3 linked regions of the Homo sapiens genome follow. The protein of the gene in region 2 interacts with the protein of the main gene of each other region in a pairwise test. Each region holds a gene or a part of one and is shown on either strand. Other genes may lie near its edges.

Region 1 (7,304 bases), on a different chromosome or scaffold from region 2:
GGAAGCAGTGGGGGTGGTCCTTGACAGAACTGAGCTTTAGGAAGAGACACTTCTTGTCCTTCCACCCACTTTCACTCAATAAATATTTGGTTAGCAGCTGTTATGTACCCAGCACTGTTCTAACTTCTGGGGATACAGCATTAACAAGGAGGAAAAAAAAAATCCCACCTGTGTGTAGCCATTCTAGCAAGGGAAGGAGTCAATAAATTAGATAAATAAGTAAATTATATATTGTGTTAGAAGGCGATGGAACTACAGAGAAAGTAGGGGAGGGAAATAGCAAATGCTGGGAGTGAAGAGAGTTGTGATTTTAAACGAAGTTGTCAGGGAAGGCATCACCTAGAATAGGGGTCCCCAGTCCCGGGGCTGTGGACTGGTACCAGGCCGAGGCCTATTAGGAACGGGGCTGCACAGCAGGAGGTGAACAGTGAGCAAGCAAGCATTACCGCCTGAGCTCCACCTGCCGTCAGATCAGCAGGCAGCATTAGATTCTCATAGGAACACAAACACTATTGTGAACGGTGCATCTGAGGGATCTAGGTTGCGTGCTCCTTTTAAGAATCGAATGCCTGATGATCTCAGGTGAAACAGTTTCATCCCAAAACCACCCCCCACACCTAGGTCTGTGGAAAAACTGTCTTCCACAAAACTGGCCCCTGGTGCCAAAAAGGTTGGGGACTGCTCACCTAGAAGGTTACATGGCCTGAAGGAGGTGAGGGAGGAGCCACTGGGGGGCCTGGGGAAGGGCATCCCAGGCAGAGGGAACAGCATAGGCAATGGCCCTGAGGCAGGAACATGCCTGATGTGAAGGAGGCCTGTGTGACTAGAATCGAATAGTAAGTGTGAGGAGGTGAAGGCAAGGAGGTGACAAGCAGATTACACAGGGCCTTCTGGGTCAGGGGGGAGGACTTGGGCTTTTGCCCCTAGCCAGGTGGGAGCCATGGAGGGTTCTTGAGCAGAGGAGGCTGGGACCTGACTCAGATGCTCACAGACTCCTAGCATTCAGTGGGGAGTAGAGGGTGGAGAGCAGGAGTGGGAGGCTGAGATGTGGGTTGGTTCGCCTGGGTCATCCATCCAAGCTACAGTGCCTAGCAATGCTCTAAGTCCTGTGACCATGCCACTGCAGGAAAGAGCAACAGAAGAATCAAAAGCCAGCCAAGTCCGTGTGGGAGCAGCGGACCAGTGAGATGCGAAAGCAGAACTTGCTGGCCAGCCGGGAGGCCCTGTATAACGAAATGGACCCGGACGAGCGCTGGAAGGCTGCCTACACGCGGCACCTGCGGCCAGACATGAAGACGCACTTGGACCGGCCGCTGGTGGTGGACCCGCAGGAGAACCGCAACAACAACACCAACAAGAGCCGGGCGGCCGAGCCCACCGTGGACCAGCGCCTCGGCCAGCAGCGCGCCGAGGACTTCCTCAGGAAACAGGCCCGCTACCACGATCGGGCCCGGGACCCCAGCGGCTCGGCGGGCCTGGACGCACGGAGGCCCTGGGCGGGAAGCCAGGAGGCCGAGCTGAGCCGGGAGGGACCCTACGGCCGCGAGTCGGACCACCACGCCCGGGAGGGCAGCCTGGAGCAACCCGGGTTCTGGGAGGGCGAGGCCGAGCGAGGCAAGGCCGGGGACCCCCACCGGAGGCACGTGCACCGGCAGGGGGGCAGCAGGGAGAGCCGCAGCGGGTCCCCGCGCACGGGCGCGGACGGGGAGCATCGACGTCATCGCGCGCACCGCAGGCCCGGGGAGGAGGGTCCGGAGGACAAGGCGGAGCGGAGGGCGCGGCACCGCGAGGGCAGCCGGCCGGCCCGGGGCGGCGAGGGCGAGGGCGAGGGCCCCGACGGGGGCGAGCGCAGGAGAAGGCACCGGCATGGCGCTCCAGCCACGTACGAGGGGGACGCGCGGAGGGAGGACAAGGAGCGGAGGCATCGGAGGAGGAAGTAAGTGGAGGTGACCTCGAATCCGCAGAATGACGGTAACATTAATAATGACAACAGCCAAAGTAGCACGTGCTGTGTATTTGTTTATAAAAATATATTATAAAATGCTGTATTTGGCCAGGCGCAGTGGCTCACGCCTGTAATCCCAGCACTTTGGGAGGCCGAGGCGGATGGATCACGAGGTCAGGAGTTCAAGACCAGCCTGGCCAAGATGGTGAAACCCCACCTCTAATAAAAATACAAAAATTAGCCGGGCACGGTGGCAGGCGCCTGTAGCCCCAGCTACTCAGGAGGCTGAGGCAGGAGAATCGCCTGAAAACAGGGGGCGGAGGTTGCAATGAGCCGAGATCACACCACCGCACTCCAGCCTGGGCGACAGAGTGAGACTCTGTCTCAAAAAAAAAAAAAAAGTGCTGTATTTGGCCAGGAGCAGTGGCTCATGCCTGTAATCCCAGCACTTTGAGAGGCCGAGGCGGGCGGATCACTTGAGGTCAGGAGTTGGAGAACAGGCTGGCCAACATAGTGAAACCCCGTCTCTACTAAAAATACAAAAATTAGTGGTGGTGCCCACCTGTATTCCCACTACTCAGGAGGCTGAGGCGGGAGAATCAGTTGAACCTGGGAGGTGGAGGTAGGTTGCAGTGAGCTGAGATCGTGCCATCACACTCCAGCCTGGGCAACAGAGCAAGACTCTGTCTCAAAAAAAAAAAAATGCTGTATGTTTTTGTTTTTTTGACACAGGGTCTCGCCTGTTGCCCAGGCTGGAGTGCAGTGGCAGTCATAGCTCAGTGCAGCCTCTACCTCCCGGGCTCAAGCCATCCGCCTCAGCCTCACAAGTAGCTGGGACCACAGACATGTGCCACATGCCTGGCTAATTTTTGTAGAGACAGTGTTTTGTAGAGACAGGGTTTCACTGTGTTTCCCAGGCTGGTCTCAAACTCCTGAACTCAAGCATTCCGCCTGCCTTAGCCTCCCTAAAGTGCTGGGACTACAGGGTTGAGCCACCACACTCAGCCTAATTTTTTTACCTTTAGTAGAAATGAGGCCTGGCTCTGTTGCCCAGGCTGGTCCCCAACTCCTGGCCTCAAGCAATCATCCCACCTCAGTCTCCCAAAGTGTTCGGATTAGAGGCTTCACAGATGGGGAAACTGAGAGATTGAGTGAGCTCCTCAAGGTCATTCCTCTAACCAGTGTCCTTGAACCCAGGCTCTCTGGCACCAGAGGCCTTGAGCATTTCAGGGAAACTATTAAGAGAAGCCCCACTGTCGTCCAGAATTATATAGTCTTCTGTGTTCTTGCTGTGTGACTTTTGCAAAGTGACTTCATATCTCTGGGCCTCACACAATGGAAATAGTGGGATCTAATTGGGTCATTGCCAGGATTGAATGAGGTAATGTATGCAAAGGGCCTGGAAGAGCAGCTGACACATAATAAGTGCTCGGTAAATTTAGAGCATTTTTGGCCATTTTCAGCCAACTCTATTTACCTAATGCTATTCTTTGGAAGTTTGAAAAGCCACTCTGTTGGGAGGCCAAGGTGGGAGGATCACTTGATACCAGGAGTTGGAGACCAGTCTGGGCAATAGAGGCAGACCCCATCTCTATAAAATATAAAAAATTAAACAGATGTGGTGGCATGCACCTGCAGTCCCAACTACTTGGGAGGCTGAGGCAGGAGGGTCACTGGAGCCCAGGATGTCTAGGCTATGATGAGCTATGATTGCACCACTGCACTTCAGCCTGGGCGACAGAGCAAGGCTTTGTCTCAAAAAATAAAATAAAAAATAAAGAAAAAGAAAAGGCACTTTGGGCCGTTAGAATTGAAGGGAGAGCAGAGTTTCAAAGCTTTGGATGCAGCGGGATGTGGTGGCTCATGCCTGTAGTCCCAGCACTTTGGGAGGCCAAGGTGGGAGGATCCACTTGAGCCCCGGAGTTCAAGACCAGCCTGCGCAACATAGTGAGACCTCACCTTTTAAAAATAAATAAAAATGTTAGAAAGCTTTTGAGGCATCTTCCAGGCCAGCAACTTATCCATTCAGAACCAGCATCCTCTTTTTCATAACGACATTTTGTAATACTTTCTAGCAGATGCTATAGTGATTCTGCATATAGGGACTCAACAACTTACCCATTAAAATAGACATCGTAGACATTGTCCTATTACAAATTAACCTGCTCTTAGTCCTCTTTTATATTACCATCAGGGCATAATATTGATTTTTTTAATGATGGGTTTAAGTGATCCTGTTGTATGACATATGAGGTAGGCCAGCACTTCTCAAAATCTAATGTGTATGTGAATCCCCAGGGATCTTGTTAAAACACAAATTGTAATTCCGTAGGGCTAAGGACTCAGTGGAGCCTGAGATTCTGCATTTGCAACGAGCTCCCAGATGAGGCTGATACTACTGGTCCAGGGACCACATTTTGAGTAATGAGACTCTGGAGGACATAGTGAAGTAATTCTGATATGTACACCATACACAAAATCACCATGAAGTGACAGGCACAAATGATGGCTAACTCTGGGTTGTGTGGACAATTCAAACCACATGAGGGGAGTTGCCAGCAGTGTCAAGATGTTCCACAATGTTGAACACCTCTTGGCAAAGTTCCATATACAAAAGAGTCTAGTCTTTCTTCCATTTATTTAATAGTTGCATTGCAGGAAAATGCAATGTATATTAAAAACATACAAAAAATATGTTGTGTTCTTATGTAAAAGAGTTAGGTTTAAACTAAAAGCACAGGATCAGGTGCAGTGGCTCCCACCTGTAATCCCAGTGCATTGGGAGGCTGAGGAAGGAGAATCGCTTGAGGCCAGGAGTTCGAGACCAACCTGGGCGACATAAGGAGACCTCGATCTCTACAAAAGAAGTTTTTTAATTAGCCAGGTGTGGCGGCAGGTGCCTGTAGTTCTAGCTACTTGGAAGGCTGAAGCAGGAGGATTGCTTGAGCCCAGGAGTTCAAGATTACAGTGAGCTATGATTATGCCATTGCATTCCAACCTGGGCAACAGAACAAGTCCTTGTCTCAAAAAAAAAAAAAAGAAAGAAAGAAAGAAAAAACCCAAACAAACAAGCAAACTAAAAGCACAGGTAATTACAAGCAAGATTTTTCACCTCTTTGAGGGACATTAGAAAGTCATGAAGAGGAAAAGATAAGTCTTTCCCATATGGGACTGTCATGTACATGGTAGGGTATTTAGTATAACTGCCTACCATTCTCTAAGTGCCTGCAGTGCCCCTCAATCATTATGTTATTAGGTTTCCACGTAGTTCTACAACAGTTTTCTGAAAACCATTGTTCTAGGTCATTCTTTCGCTTCAATCTTCTCCTATGGGTTTATGCATTCATTCAGTTAGTATTTACTAAGTGCCTACTATATTCTAAGCTCATGCTGTGAGTTCAGTCACACAACTGCAAGTGAAGTGGTCTGAGACATTCTGAGAAATACGACCAAGAAACTGCTCCCAGGGTCTCAGGGCAGGTTTCCAGAGGAGCAATCTGAGAAGGGAGTAGAGTGTTTCAGTCTAACAACAGCATGTGCAAAGGCCCTGGGGTGGACCAGAAGGAGGCCAGTTTGCAGGACATGACTAGTGACGAGAAAGTGACAAAGAAATTGAAGGTGCATTGATGAGACTCTGGGGCTGTCAGTCACTCAGGGGAATGAGAGATCAAAACGGGAGTTTAGGTGGAATAAAGTGTTTACCACAGCACTCTCTGTATAGTAAAGACCAATGAAGAGCCAGGTACAGGCCAGTGTGATGGTTCACGCCTGTAATCCCAGCACTTTGGGAGGCAGAGACAGGTGGATCACCTGAGGTCAGGGGTTCAGAACCAGCTTGGCCAACATGGCAAAACCCTGTCTCTACTAAAAATACAAAAAATTAGCCAGGCGTGGTGGTGGACGCCTATAATCCCAGCTACTCAGGAGGCTGAGGCACAAGAATTGTCCTGCGAGGCAGAGGTTACAGTGAGCTGAGATCACACCACTGCACTCCAGCCTGGGCAACAGAACAAGACTCTGTCTCAAAAAAAAAAAAAAAAAAAAAAAGCCAGGTACAGTGGTATGCACCTGTAATCCCAGCTACTCAGGAGGCTGAGGCAAAGGATTGCTTGAGCCCAGGAGTTCGAGACCAGCCTGAGCATTTAGAGAATGGGAGGCCAGTATACTAAATACCCTACCATGTACAAGACAGTCTCATATGGAAAAGAATTATCCTTTCCTCTTCATGACTTTCTAGTGCTCCTCACACAGGTGAAAAATCTTGCTTATAATTATCTGTGCCTTTAGTTTGTTGGTTTATTTAGGGTTTTGTTTGTTTTTTTTTTTTTTTTGAGGCAGGGTCTTGCTCTGTTGCCCAGGTTGGATTGCAGTAGCATTGCTCATTTTAGAGATGAGCAAGACCTCATGTCTAAAAAAAAAAGAAAGACCAATGATTATTAATTACTCTTGCTATTATTACTAATATTACTGTTATTATCAGCCTTATTAACAGATCTACTGTTATTGAAGGAGGCAGAGTGACAGGGACAAAATGTCTCTCCCTAACAATATGCCAGGAAGAGTTTTTGAAAGACAACAGTAAACATTGGAAACTACAAGAGCAGCAAAGCCTGGTTGTGAAAGGCAAGGACTTTGGGGCAGGCAGTCACATTCCTGCCCTATCACTTCCAGGCTGTGTGACTTTCAGAATTTCACTCCTCTCTGGGCCTCCATTTCCTCATCTATAAAATGAAGATAAGAATAGTAGCTACCTCCTTCTCTGGGTATAAGATTTAACTGAGCCGGGCGCGGTGGCTCATGCCTGTAATCCCAGCACTTTGGGAGGCCGAGGTGAGCGGATCACAAGGTCATGAGTTCAAGACCATCCTGGCTAATATGGTGAAACCCCATCTCTACTAAAAATACCAAAAAAAAAAAAAATTAGCCGGGCGTAGGTGGTGCACGCCTGTAGTCCCAGCTACTCGGGAGGCTGAGGTAGGAGAATGGTGTAAAACCCGGGAGGCGGAGCTTGCAGTGAGCCGAGATCGCACCACTGCACTCCAGCCGGGGAGACAGAGCGAGACTCCATCTCAAAAAAAAAAAAAAAAAAAAAAAAGATTTAACTGAGTTAGTACGTGTAAAATGCTTTGAGTGGTTCCTGGCTTATACCAAGAGCTCAATAAATGTTAGCAATTTTTTGTAGCATTTTGGGGTCTCACTATGTTGCCCAGGCTGGTGTCAAACTCCTGGCCTCAAGAAATTCTCCCACTTTGGCCTCCCAAAGTGCTGGATTTACAGACATGAGACACCATGCCTGGCCATGTTAGCTATTATTAATATGAATATTATTAAGTACTCAATGAATGCTATTTTTAGCAGT
Region 2 (7,304 bases):
AAAGCACATGAAAATATGTTCAATGTCATTTGTCATTAGGGAAATACAAATCAAAACTACAATGACCACTTCCCACCCAGTAGGTTGTTCATAATCAGAAAGACAGACGATAAGTGTTGGTGAGGATGTGGAGAAATCAAAACCTTTGTGCATTGCTGGTGGGAATGTAAAATGGTGCAGCTACTTTGGAAAACAGTCTGGCAGTTCCCCAAATGGTTAAACAGAGTTACCATATGTCCTGGCAATTCTGTTCTTAGACATAACCAAAAGAACTAAAAACAGGTTTCCTAAGAAAAATGTACACGTGAATGTTTATATTTACGACAGCCAAAAGGTAGAAACAACCCAAATGCCAATCAATGAATAAACAAAATGTGGTAATGGAGTATTCTTGAGCCATAAAAGGGAATAAGACATTGAATTGACACATGCTACAATATGGACGGACCTTGAAAACATTATGCTAAGTAAGAAAAGCCAGTTACAAAAGGCCACATATCGTATGACTCCATTTATAGGAAATGTCCAGAATAGTCAAATCTATAGAGACAAAGTAGATTATTGCTACTTAGGAGGCTGAGGTGGGAGGATCACCTGAGCCTAGGAGTTCAAGGCAGTGAGCTATGATTGTGCCACTGTGCTCCAGCTTGGGCAACAGAATGAGACCTCCATCTCTTTAAAAAAAAAAACAAAAACAAAGTAGATTAGTGGATGCCACAGGCAGGGGGAAGATGAGAATGGGGAGTGACTGCTAATGGGTATGGGGCTTTTGGGGGGATGATGAACACACCCTGAAATTAGGTAGTGGTAATAGTTGAATCTGTTAAAAACCACAGAACTATTCACTTCAAAAGGGTGAATTTTATAGCATGTAAATTATATCTTAAGCTGTAATTTGCAAAACAAAACAAAAAATATTACAAATGATATTCTCATGCAACTACTTTGTAAACTTGACCTAATGTTTCTGTAAGACAAATTCTTAAAAGTCACTGGGTCTATGAGTGTAAACATTTGGAATTGTATTTTTTTGAGACAGAGTCTCACTCTGTCGCCCTTGCTGGAGTGCAGTGGCACGATCTCAGCTCACTGCAATCACTGCCTCCTGGGTTCAAGCGATTCTCCTCCTCAGCCCCCCGATAGCTGGGATTACAGGCATGTGTCACCATGCCCGACTAATTTTTGTATTTTTAGTAGAGACGGGGTTTCGCCATGTTGGCTAGGCTGGTCTTGAACTCCTGACCTCAGGTGATCCGCCCGCCTCAGCCTCCCAAAGTGCTAGGATTACAGGCATGAGCCACCATGCCCAGCCTAGAATTTTAACAGATATGTTCAAAAAGATCTCCCAAAATGTTGTACTAGTTTATATTCCTACTAACAATTTGTGAGAGTGCCTATTTCTCCATACCCTGGTTAATTCTGGGCAGAGTCCATCTTTTAATTTTGCCAACATCACAGATTAAAATTTTCTTAATTATTAGTGAGGCTGATCATTTAAAACAAAGATAGTTGGCTACACATATACAAACATATTTCTCCCATGAACTGTCTGTTCATGCCCTTTGCCTGTTTTTCTAGTAAGCTGTACTTCCTTTTAAAAAAGTTTGTAAAAGCTCTTTGCTTTGAGAAATTCACCTTTGTCACAGGTTTTACAAATACTGTAAAGAATTTAAAGCCAGTGGTTTACAAATTTAAATGTTGGATTCTGCTTTCCAAAACAAATGACTAGCAATTAAAATCCTATGATATATTGCCTGTCTGACATAAATAGAAGGCCGAAGTTTTCAAATTTTGTTCAATCCTATGTTCACGTAATTACAGTTTAAGGAACTGCTCTTAAGGAAGCAAACTGACAGGCAGGCAATACTCTAAACTTACCAAGTCCAATCAAAGCCATTCTTGCACTTGTGAAATGGTTCTGAACGAAGTAATGTAACTGAGGAAGTTAAAAACACTTATTAGGTTATATTAGCATAAATATAAAAAGCTGTAAAAACATAAAAGTACAGTTTGGAAGAAAATAAATACTTATAAGGCCTTATAAGTTGCTGTAATGAACTACAAGGTACTAACTGAGGTGAATTACCCTGGGATTTTATTATAAAAACTATTGCTTAAAAGAACTAGAACCTAATTGTGGTCATGGTTGCACAACTCTGTGAATATAATGAAAACCACTGAATTGTGTACACTTTAAATAGGTTGTATAGTATGGTGAATTACATCTCAACAAAGCTGTTATTTATAAAAGGAATAAAAAGAGGCTGGGTGCAGTAGCTCATGTCTGTAATCCCAGCACTCTGGGAGGCCAAGGCTGGCGGATCATTTGAGGCCACGAGTTTGAGACCAGCCTGGGCAACACAGCGAAATCCTGACTCTACTAAAAATGCAAAAATTAGCCAGGCATGGTGGTGCACGCCTGTAATCCCAGCTACATGGGTGGCTGAGGCACGAGAATTGTTTGAATCCAGGAGGCAGAGGTTGCAGTGAGCTGAGATCGTGTCATTGCACTCTGGCCTGGGCGACACAGCAAGACTCTGTCTCAAAAAAAAAAAAAAAAAAAGGAATAAAAAGAAATTAGAGCATACACTGGCCTAAACTTGAAAACGTGGACTATGATTTTTATTATAATGTAGCTTACGTAGTATGTCAGGTTTCTTTTGTGTTTATATAAGTAGTAATGAAGCACTATTAACATTCTATAACAGGGCTAACAGAGTTTTACCACAACACCCTTCTCGTCCATCTTTGAAGCCAATCTCTATAAAGCTTTTCTGACCATGAAGTCATTGTCTATACCAGGGTGTCGAAACTGTAAGATCACAATTACTCAGCTTGAAAAACAAAAACGGTCACTGTCCCCCATTCTTGGGACTTACCCTACAGACTGATATAAAATATTAAATGTGGAATCCTAGAATCCTTATTTAAAACCGACCAACTACCCATCCATCCAATCAACCACTCAGGCGATCTGAAGATTGGTGAGACTTGGTTATCACTGGTTTATATTACCACCTTAGGCTTAATATACAAAAGTAGGGCTAAAACATGTACTTTCAACAGAAATGCTATCCTTTCCAGATGGGTGAAAATTGGTTTGGGGTAACTAAGAAAAAAAAAAAACTTACGACTTCTATGTAAAAAGTACAAATATACAGCACATAAACTCTATCTGTGGTATTAAAAGTAAGAGGTTTAGAAAAAAATGGCTAGAAAGGCTCCTCAGGAAGGAAAGTGATAACGTTTTGAGAATCACTGGGCTAAAGTAATGAAACTGAACTTTTAATCAATTTATCATAATCCGTGCCCTAAAATGAATGGTGTCTGTACCTATGGAGTAACCTTGGAAAGTCATACTCTTTTTCTATTGATGTTTTTCTATTGATGCTGCCATTGCTCCAAGTATTCTAGCGCCAATTTCTTTAGAGTTTCCTTTAGCCTAGGGACACATTTAAAAAATACTATTAACTTTGAGATAACCAAGTTATCACAGTTAACATCTTGATATTTGTCTATAATGCATACATACATACCTTTTATTAAAAAAAAGGGACCTTTTGGTATGTCCTAATCCATAAATTGCTTTATGTGACAACATGCTGTGGAGTTTTATGTATCAACTAATATTTTTGAATGGTTGAATACTGTTCCATTCTATAAGTTATTTAACTAGTTCCCTAATGCTGGATATTAACTTGTTTCTAATTTTTCACAATTATAAACTAGTATTACAATAGCCATCCTTGTAGATAAACTTTTGCTAAGTTTTAGCTAACTTAATGACACATCTTCATGAGGGTGAATTTGATTTCTGAAAAATTTCAAAACTCATTAGAGTCCAGTCTTATGAAAACGGCTGCCTGTTCAAGTTGGATGATGTAAGTTAAAATTTCTAAATAAAAGTGCCATATGAATGAAAGGCATCAAACTGTTAATTGATAAGTCAAAAAGAGCAAGGGATACAGTTTAGTTTTCTGTAACAGCTAACTAAGAATAAAACGAGAATAAAAACCTTGAATTTTTGAGTCAGATATACTTTGAAGGTGTTGATAATTACAAATTTTTCTCTTAATGTCTTTTGATAAAATTTGTTTTTGGGTCTGGGTGGTAGGAATAGGAAATTAAGATTATACGCACATATCTACACTTGTAGATTTAGCATTCAATGTTTCATGTTTTGGAAACAAAGTTCTAAGATGCACATATGGCTGTGGCATGTGACAAACCCCTATAGCCAGCAAACGGAGGCTGGTGTGCTGAAGAACGTGAATGAGTGAGCGAGGATGGAACAGGAGCTAAGGAAGTGGGCTCAAGTCTTATTTACAAATTCAGAGAGACCAAAGAGTTTTAGTCAAAGGACCTATTTTATATATATGTATACACACACACATATATATATATTTTTTTTTTGTAGAGACAGGGTCTTGCTATGTTGCCCAGGCTGGTCTTGAACTCCTGGCCTCAAGTGATCCCTCTGTCTTGGCCTCCCAAAGTGCTGAGATTACACGCATGAGCCACTGGGCCCAGCCCCTATTATGATACTTAAACATTTAAATACTGTTTAAAAAAGATACACAGGCTGGGTGCAATGGCTCATGCCTGTAATCCCAGCACTTTGAGAGGCATAGGCAGAAGGACTGCTTGAGCTTAAGAGTTCAAGACCAGCCTAGGCAACACAGCAAGACCCCGTATTTAAAACAAACAAACAAAAAAGATACATACACACAGAAAACGGTTTAGAAGAAAATATACCAGGTATTAACACTGAGTGCCTTTAGGTATGTGAGATGTTTTCTTTCCCTTCATTTTGTTTGATTTTACTTTTTAATTTTTCTGTAATGATCATGTCCCTTTAGTCATGAAAACATTTCTTAAAGGAGACACAAAAATTGTTCAGATAAAATTTTAGTTAAAAAGCAGGTGGATGAAAAAGCTAGCACGCTGAATTTCTTAAAGTTAGAAGATAAAAGGAAAAATTAACAAACAAACCTGAAATGGGAGATGTTCAATTTAATGTGAAAAACAAGCACATTTCAAAATATGTTTTATTGGTACCTCCTCTGATGTCACTTTTCCAATCCTATAGTCAGGACAATACAAGGGATTAGCCAAGGCATTCCGGTAAGCTGCTGCATGCAAATTTTCAATGACATCTGTGAGATAAGTGAAGAAGCATTTAGGGAAATGCACTTTCAGTAAAGACAACATTTTTAAAACCTAGAAAGCAACAAGCCTATACAAATTTGGTCATCTTCTGGCATTCATATGTTAAGAGGACTTAAAATTTATTATTATTTAACCTCTAGTAACTGCCAGTTTCTGCCAGTAGAATGTGCTGAGAAAAAAATAAAAAAGATTACATGGCAGCAGCTTCTATATACTGGAGTCCACCTAAACCACTTTTCTAACTTTAACCTAGCTGGTATCACTTGGAAGGTATACTGGCCTGGGTTTTGGGAAGTCCCCATCTAGTTATGGTTCTGCCGCCATCTTGCCATGTGACCTTGGACAAGTCATTTAATCTGAATTTTACTTACTCCTAGGTTTCCTCTCTAGGTAATAAGGAGATTGTCAGGTAGCTTTCAGGGGACCAATGGGAGCTTCCACTGGGACTTACTCCTCTGTGGTGCTTGGTGCTTTCCCTGCTTTCTTGCTTCAATGCCTTTTTGCCTGCAGTATTTCCTTCAGTTGCTCATTACCTGGCAACTTGCCTATGCGAGGCACTGTGCTAGGTGCTAGAAATACAGAGATGTGGAACATACAATGCCTGCCCTCAAATTTTAAGAGGAAAAACTGTGAAATAAAGTATTATGGGTGCAATGTCGGCAGTGTGTCAAAAGTGCAGTAGAGGTACAAGGCAAGGGCAGTGGGAATTGGAAAACAATTAATACAAGTAATATGTGGGATCCATCTTACAGAATGAGCTGGTGTTTCCCAGGGGAAATCATTTGGGAACAGCATTTTAGGCACAGGAAGCAGACAAAACAAAGGCATAAAGTATAACAATAATTTGATTCAAATGGGAATTGCAGCTGGAAGGAGAAGAGGGTAGAGCATAAAGTAAGAGAAGTGGGCTGGGGTAAGATCACGCAAGGCCATATACGTATATGCTGTTTGGACTTTATCCCATAGATAATAAGAAGGCTTACTTTCACGTCAGAAGGATCACTGTAATGGCCGTGTGGGAGATGGACTCAAGACGTAAACCTGGAGGCTGACACCAGCCAGGAGACTACACAGTAACTGTTCAGGCAGAATAGATGCAGGCTGGTGCCTCACTGCCGCCAGTGGGGAAGAAGCCACTCTGGACACATAGGTCATCTTTTCTAAAATTGTACTATTCTATCTATTTCTTCAGTAGAAATCCTGAGCAACAAAGATAATGCTCCTCTGTGACACCAAGCATCATCATGAAATAACATCAGTCCCCAGGCCTGCATGTGGAGGGGAGCCTGTCCCATGCTGAACCACTGAGTTGAGCTATTTCTGCTCTTCCTGCACATTTCTGCTCCCACCAGAAGTTGTATGACTCCCAAGAGTCAGCGGCGCTTGCTTACAGACTTGTATTACCAGTTGTACTTGTCAAGATTATATAATTAGACATTATATAAACATAAAATATGAATGCAAAAAAGATTCCTATTAAAAAAATTAAGTTACTTACTTTGGAAAGACTCAATAAAGAGGAGATGGCTAAACAATAATAGCAATACAATAGTAAGCAATAATAGCAGCAGCAATAAACTGGTGTAGGATTTGGGGTAAGCAAAACAACTCTTAAAAATCACTAGGGGTCAGGCACAGTGGCTCACGCCTGTAATCCCAGCACTTTGGGAAGCTGAGGTGGGAGGATCACTTCAGCCCAGGAGTTCGAGACCAGCCTGGGCAATAGAGTGAGACCTCATCTCTATAAAAAAATAAAAATAAAAATTAGCAGGGTGCGGTGGTGTGTGCCTGTAGTCCCAGCTACTCAGGAGGCTGAGGTAGGAGGATCACCTGAGTCCAGAAGGTTCAGGCTGCAGTGAGATTGTGCCACTGCACTCCAGCCTGGGCAACAAGCAACACCCTGTCTCAAAAACAAACAAACAAACAAACAAAAACAAAACATTGGGAAGGAAACAGGAAAAACTTCTAGGATCTTACAAACAATTTACTTACCATCAAACATGAAAAATGATTATAAATGTTTAGAAACAAAAGAATAATAAATCTAAATAACAAATTTTTGAAAAAGATATTTTCAAATTCAAGGAGTAAAACATTTGGCCAGGCATGGTGGCTCACACCTGTAACACCAGCAC
Region 3 (7,304 bases), on a different chromosome or scaffold from region 2:
AAATTAAAGTCTGGAGCTGCATGGGGGGCCTCCATTGTGGTGGGCCCTGCCTTTCAGATTGGCAGTTGTTTAGATATATTAGAGTATCACCCCTGGGGATTGCACTCACTTGCTGGTGGACACCACCTCAAAGCAGAACCGCCTTTCTGAGTCAGGGCAGAGTTTCACTGTGCAGAGACGAAGGTCATCCACCACCACAGTCACAGGGTCCTGGCAGGATAAGGTGATAAGGGGCCAGATGTCCAGCTGCAGGCAAGAGCTGAGTCTCCCTGGGGCCCAGGCATCCAGGACCCAGGTCCACTCACCTTGTACTTCTTCTGGTAAACCAGTTGGTTGCTCTGAATGGTGAACCAGCGTCTGTAAGAGAAGGAAATCATTACAGACATAGGCAGCTTTAGGATGAGGGACGGAAGAGAGGCTGTGCTTTTTGCCCATGAGGATCTTACTGAGAGGACAGACACCTGGGCTGACTGTTCCACGAGACATTCCAGAGAAGGGTGGACAATTGTGCAGATTGGAACATCTAAAGGATGCTATTCCTATCTTGGACAACCCAGATTTCATATAGTTATGAAGACAACTTTCCAGCAGATGGCAGTAAAATTCTTTTTCTAATAAAATGTCTATTGCTACAATTTAAAAAATACTATTTAGGCTGGGCTCACACCTGTAATCCCAGCACTTTGGGAGGCTGATGGGGGTGGTGGATCACCCGAGGTCAGGAGTTTGAGACCACCCTGACCAATATGGTGAAACTCCGTCTCTACTAAAAATACAAAAATTAGCCAGGCGTGGTGGCAGGCGGCTATAATCCCACCTACTTGGGAGGCTGAGGCAGGAGAATCGCTTGAACCCAGGAAGCTGAGGTTGCAGTGAGCTGAGATCGCACCACTGTGCTGCAGCCTGCGCAACATAGCGAGGCTCCATCAAAAAAGAAAAAAAAAGAAAAAGAAAAAAAGAAAAGAAAGAATCTTGGGGGCCAGGTACAGTGGCTCACGCCTGTAATCCCAGCAAGTTGGGAGGCCGAGGCGGGTGGATTGCTTGATGTCAGGAGTTTGCAACCAGCCTGGGCAACATGGTGAAACCCTGTTTCTACCAAAAATACAAAAATTAGCCGAGCGTGATGGCACACGCCTGTGGTCCCAGCTATTTAGGATGCTGAGGAGGGAGGATCACTTGAACTCAGGGGATAGAGGTTGCAGTGAGCCGAGACTGCGCCACTGCACTGCAGGCTGGGCAACAGAGTGACACCCCATCTCAAAAAAAACAGAAAAAAAAAAAGAAAAGAAAAAGAAAAAAGAGTATCTTGGGGAAGCAGCTCCATTTTCTAATTTGTACAGAGATCCCATGTGGGCTAGCAGTGGCCCTAGAAGGGAAAGGAGTCAAGTCACAGCATGCCACCATCCTGTTCCAAACCCTATAGCGGCTCCCAATTGCTCTCAGAGTAGACCCCAAATCCCTACAAAAATCTATAGGGCCCTATAATGACTCATGCCCCCATTAGCTCCGATTTCATCTCCTGCACATCCTCCTCCCTCACTCTGTCCAGACCCAGGGCCACCACCCTGCTCTTCCAACTCCCCAGCTATCTCAGGGCCTTGGCACTGGCTCTTTCTTCTGTCTAGAACTTTCTTCCCCCAGATATCCTTCAAGTCTTTGTTCAAAAGTTACCTTCTCATGAAGCCCACACTGCCCAACTATTTAGAACTGTAACCCCTACCCAGCTCCCCACATCCCTTGCTTTATCATCTTTCTCCTATAGCAAGCACTATCACCTTCTAACATAGCACGTAATTTACATACTAGGTTTATCCTCTGTCTTTGCTGATGGAATGAAACTCTACTGAGGCAGGGGGGTTCGTCTGTTTTTCCTTGCAGTGCTTAGTGTGCTATTACCACTCGAAAATACATCATTGGGTGGGGCGGGCTGATTGGGGGTGTCCTCTCCTCACCTGCTCCAGGTCTTAAATGCGTTGCTGGCCCGTTTGAAGAGATGTCCTTCCATCACCAGGCCACCAGGCCCCTCTCTTAAGCTTGGTTCTGGCTCCTCCCCACCCAGCTCCTGGAGGCACAAGAGGATCAAAGGGCAACTGAGATGGGCAGACACCAAGGCCATAGGCATCTGCCTCCTGCCCACAGCCCTAGCCCTTACTTTCTGCTTTTTGAAATACTTTTTAAAATTTATTTTTAGAGACAGGGTCTTGTTCTTTCACCCAGGCTTAAGTGCAGTTGTGTGATCATAGCTCACTGCAGTCTTGAACTCCTGGGCTCAAGCAATCCTCCCACCTCAGCCTCCTGAGTAGCTAGAACTAGAGGTGCATGCCACCACACCAGCTAATTTTAAAATTTTCTGTAGAGATGGAGTTTCACTACGATGCCTAGGCTAATCTTGAACTCCAGGCCTCAAGCAATCTTCCCACCTCAGCCTCCCAACATGTTGGGATGACGGTCGTGGGCCACCGCACCTGGCCCCTCACCTTCTGTTTCAGCAGCACGTGTCTCTGCTCCATGTCCCTCTTCTCTCGTGCTGAATTCAAGACCAGCTGGTGCAACTGGGCACAGGAAGGGCATCTCAGATGTCCAAGGCCCCCCAGTTAGGAGTCCCTAACCTCCCTCTACCACCTGCTGTGCCCTGGGGCCCCACCTGGGCGCCCAGCTCCTTTCGATACTGGGACAGCCGGCTCAGCTCCTCATGGCCCTGCTGGAAATGGGTAGCCTGGGCCTCCACCAAACGCAGCACCTGGGGGACAAGGCGGGCAGTGGGAAGGCTGAGGAAGAACCCCTCTCCCCATTCCCTTGTGCTGGCAGCAGGCTCTTCTCCACCCTGCCCTCACCCCCGCCACAACTCACAAACTCCATGATGTCAAACTTCCTCTTGTCCTCAATCACGTTGATCTGAGGACGTAAAAGAGGACGTAAAAAACCCCAGATCAGTCTTGAAGACACAGCACCCCTTCCCACTGCACACTGGAGACCCCCAAGCCTCGAGGTGACACTTGAGGCTCTGGTACCCCAGGAAGACAGATTGGGGCAGGCACCTGCAGGGCATAATCCAGTGCCCGTCCCCGGTACCCAGCTCGAGCCGTCCTCAAAGCAGCTCCTGCCTCTTCTGCCTCCTGGGCCCGGCGCCTGGGAACCTCTGCGTTGTGGGTCAGGGCAGCCTCCAGGCTCTCAGCCCCCCGCCAGAAATCCCGGCGAGCCTCTCGGAAACCCCGCAGACCTCTGAGGATGGGAAAATAACACAGAATCGCAGCTAACACCCACCTGCCCCAGCAGAGCATTCCCAGGGTAAAGCCCTCATGTCCTTTCAGTTAGTCTCTGCAACGTGGGAAACCCAAGGTGATCCCTGGGACGGAAGTCAGGACACCAGAAACCCCCAATCTCACAACTCCGTCACTGGGGAGGCTCCTGTGGCCATGGGAAGAGGGCAGCAGGGCTGGTTTCCGAGAAATAAGGCCCCCTTCTCTCCCATCTCACTCCCCCTTTAAAAAATTTTTGTTGTTGTTGTTGTTTTTGTTTTTGAGACCGGGTCTTGCTCTGTTACCCAGGCTGGAGTACAGTGGCACAATCATGGCTCACCGCAGCCCTGACCTCCAGGCTCAAGCAATTCTCCTGCCTCAGCCTCCCAAGAAGCTGGGACAACAGACATGTGCCACCACGCCCGGCTATTTTTTTTTTTTTTTTTTTTTTTTTGAGGCAGAGTCTCACTCTGTTGCCCAGGCTGAAGTGAAGTAGTGCGATCTTGGCTCACTGCAACCTCCACCTCCTGGGTTCAAATGATTCTCCTGCCTCGGCCTCCTGAGTAGCTGGGATTACAGGCACCTGCCACCATGCCCGGCTAATTTTTTTTTTTCGTATTTTTTAGTAGAGCTGGGGTTTTGCCATGTTAGACAGGCTGGTCTCGAACTCCCGACCTCAGGTGATCCGCCCGCCTTGGCCTCCCAAAATGCCGGGATCATAGGCATGAGCCACCGTGCCCGGCCTAATTTTTGTATTTTTTGTGGAGACAGTTTCGCCATGTTGGCTAGGTTGGTGTCCAACTCCTGGGCTCAAGCAATCCTCCCGCCTTGGCCTTCCAAAGTGTTGGGATTACAGGCATGAGCCACTGCGCCCGGCCCCATCTCACTCCTTGACCAGGGTCTGGATCTGCTGCTGCAGTGTGTGTTGGGTGGCATCTAGAAGCTCCTGAGGGAAGGAGAAGTTGGTAGACTGGGGTCAGGACCACAGGTGACCTGGCCACCACCCCGACAATCCTTACCTTCCCCTACTTACCGCATGGCTGTCCAGCTTGTGGTTCAGGCTCACGGTGAATTTTTCCAGACACTCCTAGGCAAGAAGAGGCACAGAAAGAGTACCAGGCATGGGGTGGCAGCACCCTCCCGACTCGAGACCCAGCCTGCTACGGCTGTCATGGACAGCAGCCCAGCCCTGCTGTGGCCTGGAACCTGCAGACCCCAGGCCAGCCCTCCTCTTCCACAGCATCACCTCCTCATCCCAGACCCCTTCCCTCCCAGATGCAGACCCTCCGCATACCGCCATCATGGGCTCTGGTGGACCCAGGCGGGCCAGGTCACAAATGCCGACAACGAAGGCGCGGCTGGCAGCAAGGTAATGGCGCCCACTTTCCAGGAGACCAGTGCCCAGTTTCAGGAGCTGGGAAAGAAGGAGGGTAACAGGGAGCTGTGCCATCATCCTCACACCTGGTGATGCCCCCACACCTGCCCCACTTCCTCTCCCCTTGCCCAGGGCGGCGCTCCCCTATTCCTGCCTGGCCTCACTGCCCTCCAGGCTCATCCAGCTCTCCCTGTATCTAACACATACCTGCTGTGTTCTTATCGCTGCGTCTTTGCTCCCACTGCCTTGGGCCTGAAACCCAATTCCTGCCCATTCCTCTCAGCCTGTCGCCAACACCTCTGTCAGCCTTACCTCCAAAACATCTTTCCCTGTCCACTCGCACATATCTCTTCCTGCCCTGCCTACCTGCTTAGATCCAGAGCTCCGTGGAGATTCCTGCATGGTCTGGATGCTCTACCTGGTTGCTATTAAATTCTACAGTATTGGCCGGGCGTGGTGGCTCACACCTGTAATCCCAACCCTTTGGGAGGCCAAGGCGGGCCAGTCGCTTGAGCTCAGGAATTCAAGAGCAGCCTGGGCAACATGGTGAAACCTCATCTCTACTAAAAATTCAAAAATTAGCCAGGCATGGTGGCACATGCCTGTAATCCCAGCTACTTGGGAGGCTAAGGCAGGAGGACTGCTTGAACCCGGGAGGCTGAGGCTGTAGTGAGCTGAGATGGCACCAAGTGCCTATAATCCCAGTTACCTGGGGGGCTAAGGCAGGAGGACTGCCTGAATCCGGGAGGTCAAGGCTGCAGTGAGCCGAGATGGCGCTACTGCACTCCAGCCTGGGTGACAGACCGAGACTCTGTCTCGAAAAATAAATAAATAAATAAAATCTATAGTATTTACTGCTAGGAGTTGTCCCATTCTGTGCTCACTGCACGTTCCCTCATAAATATTAATCCATCATCTAGACCACGGGTCAGGGCCAAGAGGAAATGCCGGGGTACTCCTGGGGCCCATCCTATCTGGCTCTTTTGACTGACAAAGAGACTTGATAGGCCAGGCAAGGTGGCTCAGACCTGTAATCTCAACACTTTGGGAGGCTGAGGTGGGTGGATCACCTGAGGTCAGGAGTTGGATATCAGCCTGACCAACATAGTGAAACCCCATCTCTTTTTATTTTTCTATTTTTGAGACGGAGTTTTGCTCCGTTGCCCAAGCTGGAGTGCAATGGCATGATCTTGGCTCACCACAACCTCCACCTCCCAGGTTCAAGCGATCCTCCTGCCTCAGCCTCCAGAGTAGCTGGGATTACAGGTGCCCGCCACCACGCCCAGCTAATTTTTTGTATTTTTAGTAGAGACGGGGTTTCACCATGTTGACCAGGCTGGTCTCGAACTCCTGACTTCAGGTGATCCACCTGCTTCGGCCTCCCGAAGTGCTGGGATTACAGGCATGAGCCACTGCACCTGGCCTGACCGAGATCAAATCTTATCAGACATCACCATGGGTTGTCTGTGACAAGGTACAAGGATGTTCACAAATCACTGTGTGAATCTGAGGACTCTGTGTCTAGTTTTTTTCCTTACCATCTCAGCCCCTCCCCCTTAGATGAGTAAGAAACTTTCATAACACTGGACTAGTGACAGACTGGGACATCTGTTCAATAGAACAGTACTCAGCAATAAAAAGGAACAAACTGTTGATATGTGCAACAACTTGGATAAACTTCAAGAGCATTCATCTTTTAAAAAATTATGATTATTTTTAGAGTTGAGGTCTCTGTCGCCCAGGCTGGAGTGCAGTGGTGGGATCATAGCTCACTGCAGCCTTGAACTCCTGGGTTCAAGGGATCCTCCAATCTTAGCTTCCTGAGTAGCTGAGACTACAGGCACACACCACCATGCCTGGCTAATTTAAAAACAAAACAGAACATTATTTAGAGACAAGGGTCTTGCTATGTTGCCCAGGCTGGTCTCGAGCTTCTGGCCTCAAGCAACCCTCCTACCTTGACCTCCTGAGTAGTTGGGATGACAGGCATGAGCGACCACACCCGGCAGCAGCATTATTCTGAGTGAGGGGGGAGGGGGAAGCCAAATCTCAAAGGGTCACATAGTGTATGATTCTATATATGGAACATTCTGGAAATGACAAAAGTAGAGAGATGGAGAACAAATCAGCGGTTACCACAGATTAAAGAAGTGTGGGAAGGGTGTCGGGTACCACTGTAAAGGAATTCCTTGTGTCCATTGGTGTGTGGTGATGGTTAAAGGAATCCATACACGTGATAAAGTACCATAGAATTATACACAAAAACACCAAAAAAGAGTATATGCAAAATGTAAAATCAAAGTAGGATCTATAGAGTTTATTTATTTATTTAGAGACAGAGTCTTGGTCTGTCGCCCACGCCGGAGTGCAGTGGCACGATCTCGGCTCATTGCGACCTCCGCAGGCTGGAGTGTGGTGGCGTGATCTCGGCTCACTGCAACCTCCGCCTCCTGGGTTCAAGCAATTCTCCTGCCTCAGCCTCCTGAGTAGCTGGGATTACAGGTGCGTGCCACCACGCCTGGCTAATTTTTGTATTTTTAGTAGAGATGGGGGTTTCATCATGTTGGTCAGGCTGTTCTCGAAGTCCTGACCTCGTGATCCACCTGCCGCAGCCTACCAAAGTGCTGGGATTACAGGCGTGAGCCACTGAGCTTGGCTAGAGTTTATTGGGGTTTTTTGTTTGTTTGTTT

Evidence for each region.
Region 1: the proteins of UQCRC2 (region 2) and CACNA1A interact in a two-hybrid assay, tested with the Homo sapiens proteins (one study listed by BioGRID and IntAct).
Region 3: the proteins of UQCRC2 (region 2) and ACAP1 interact in binary tests that used the Homo sapiens proteins (3 or more experiments, as listed by UniProt).

What each region holds. Positions count from the first base shown.
Region 1 is NC_000019.10:13,293,176-13,300,479, reverse strand, and holds part of CACNA1A (voltage-dependent P/Q-type calcium channel subunit alpha-1A), read left to right. Parts: intron 1-1,126; coding exon 1,127-1,936; intron 1,937-7,304.
Region 2 is NC_000016.10:21,963,260-21,970,563, reverse strand, and holds part of UQCRC2 (cytochrome b-c1 complex subunit 2, mitochondrial precursor), read right to left. Parts: intron 5,157-7,304; coding exon 5,059-5,156; intron 1,937-5,058; coding exon 1,879-1,936; intron 1-1,878. UniProt on the Homo sapiens protein: Component of the ubiquinol-cytochrome c oxidoreductase, a multisubunit transmembrane complex that is part of the mitochondrial electron transport chain which drives oxidative phosphorylation.
Region 3 is NC_000017.11:7,339,297-7,346,600, reverse strand, and holds part of ACAP1 (arf-GAP with coiled-coil, ANK repeat and PH domain-containing protein 1), read right to left. Parts: intron 4,654-7,304; coding exon 4,534-4,653; intron 4,327-4,533; coding exon 4,273-4,326; intron 4,186-4,272; coding exon 4,127-4,185; intron 3,223-4,126; coding exon 3,039-3,222; intron 2,896-3,038; coding exon 2,851-2,895; intron 2,741-2,850; coding exon 2,645-2,740; intron 2,553-2,644; coding exon 2,478-2,552; intron 2,063-2,477; coding exon 1,953-2,062; intron 358-1,952; coding exon 306-357; intron 211-305; coding exon 110-210; intron 1-109. UniProt on the Homo sapiens protein: GTPase-activating protein (GAP) for ADP ribosylation factor 6 (ARF6) required for clathrin-dependent export of proteins from recycling endosomes to trans-Golgi network and cell surface.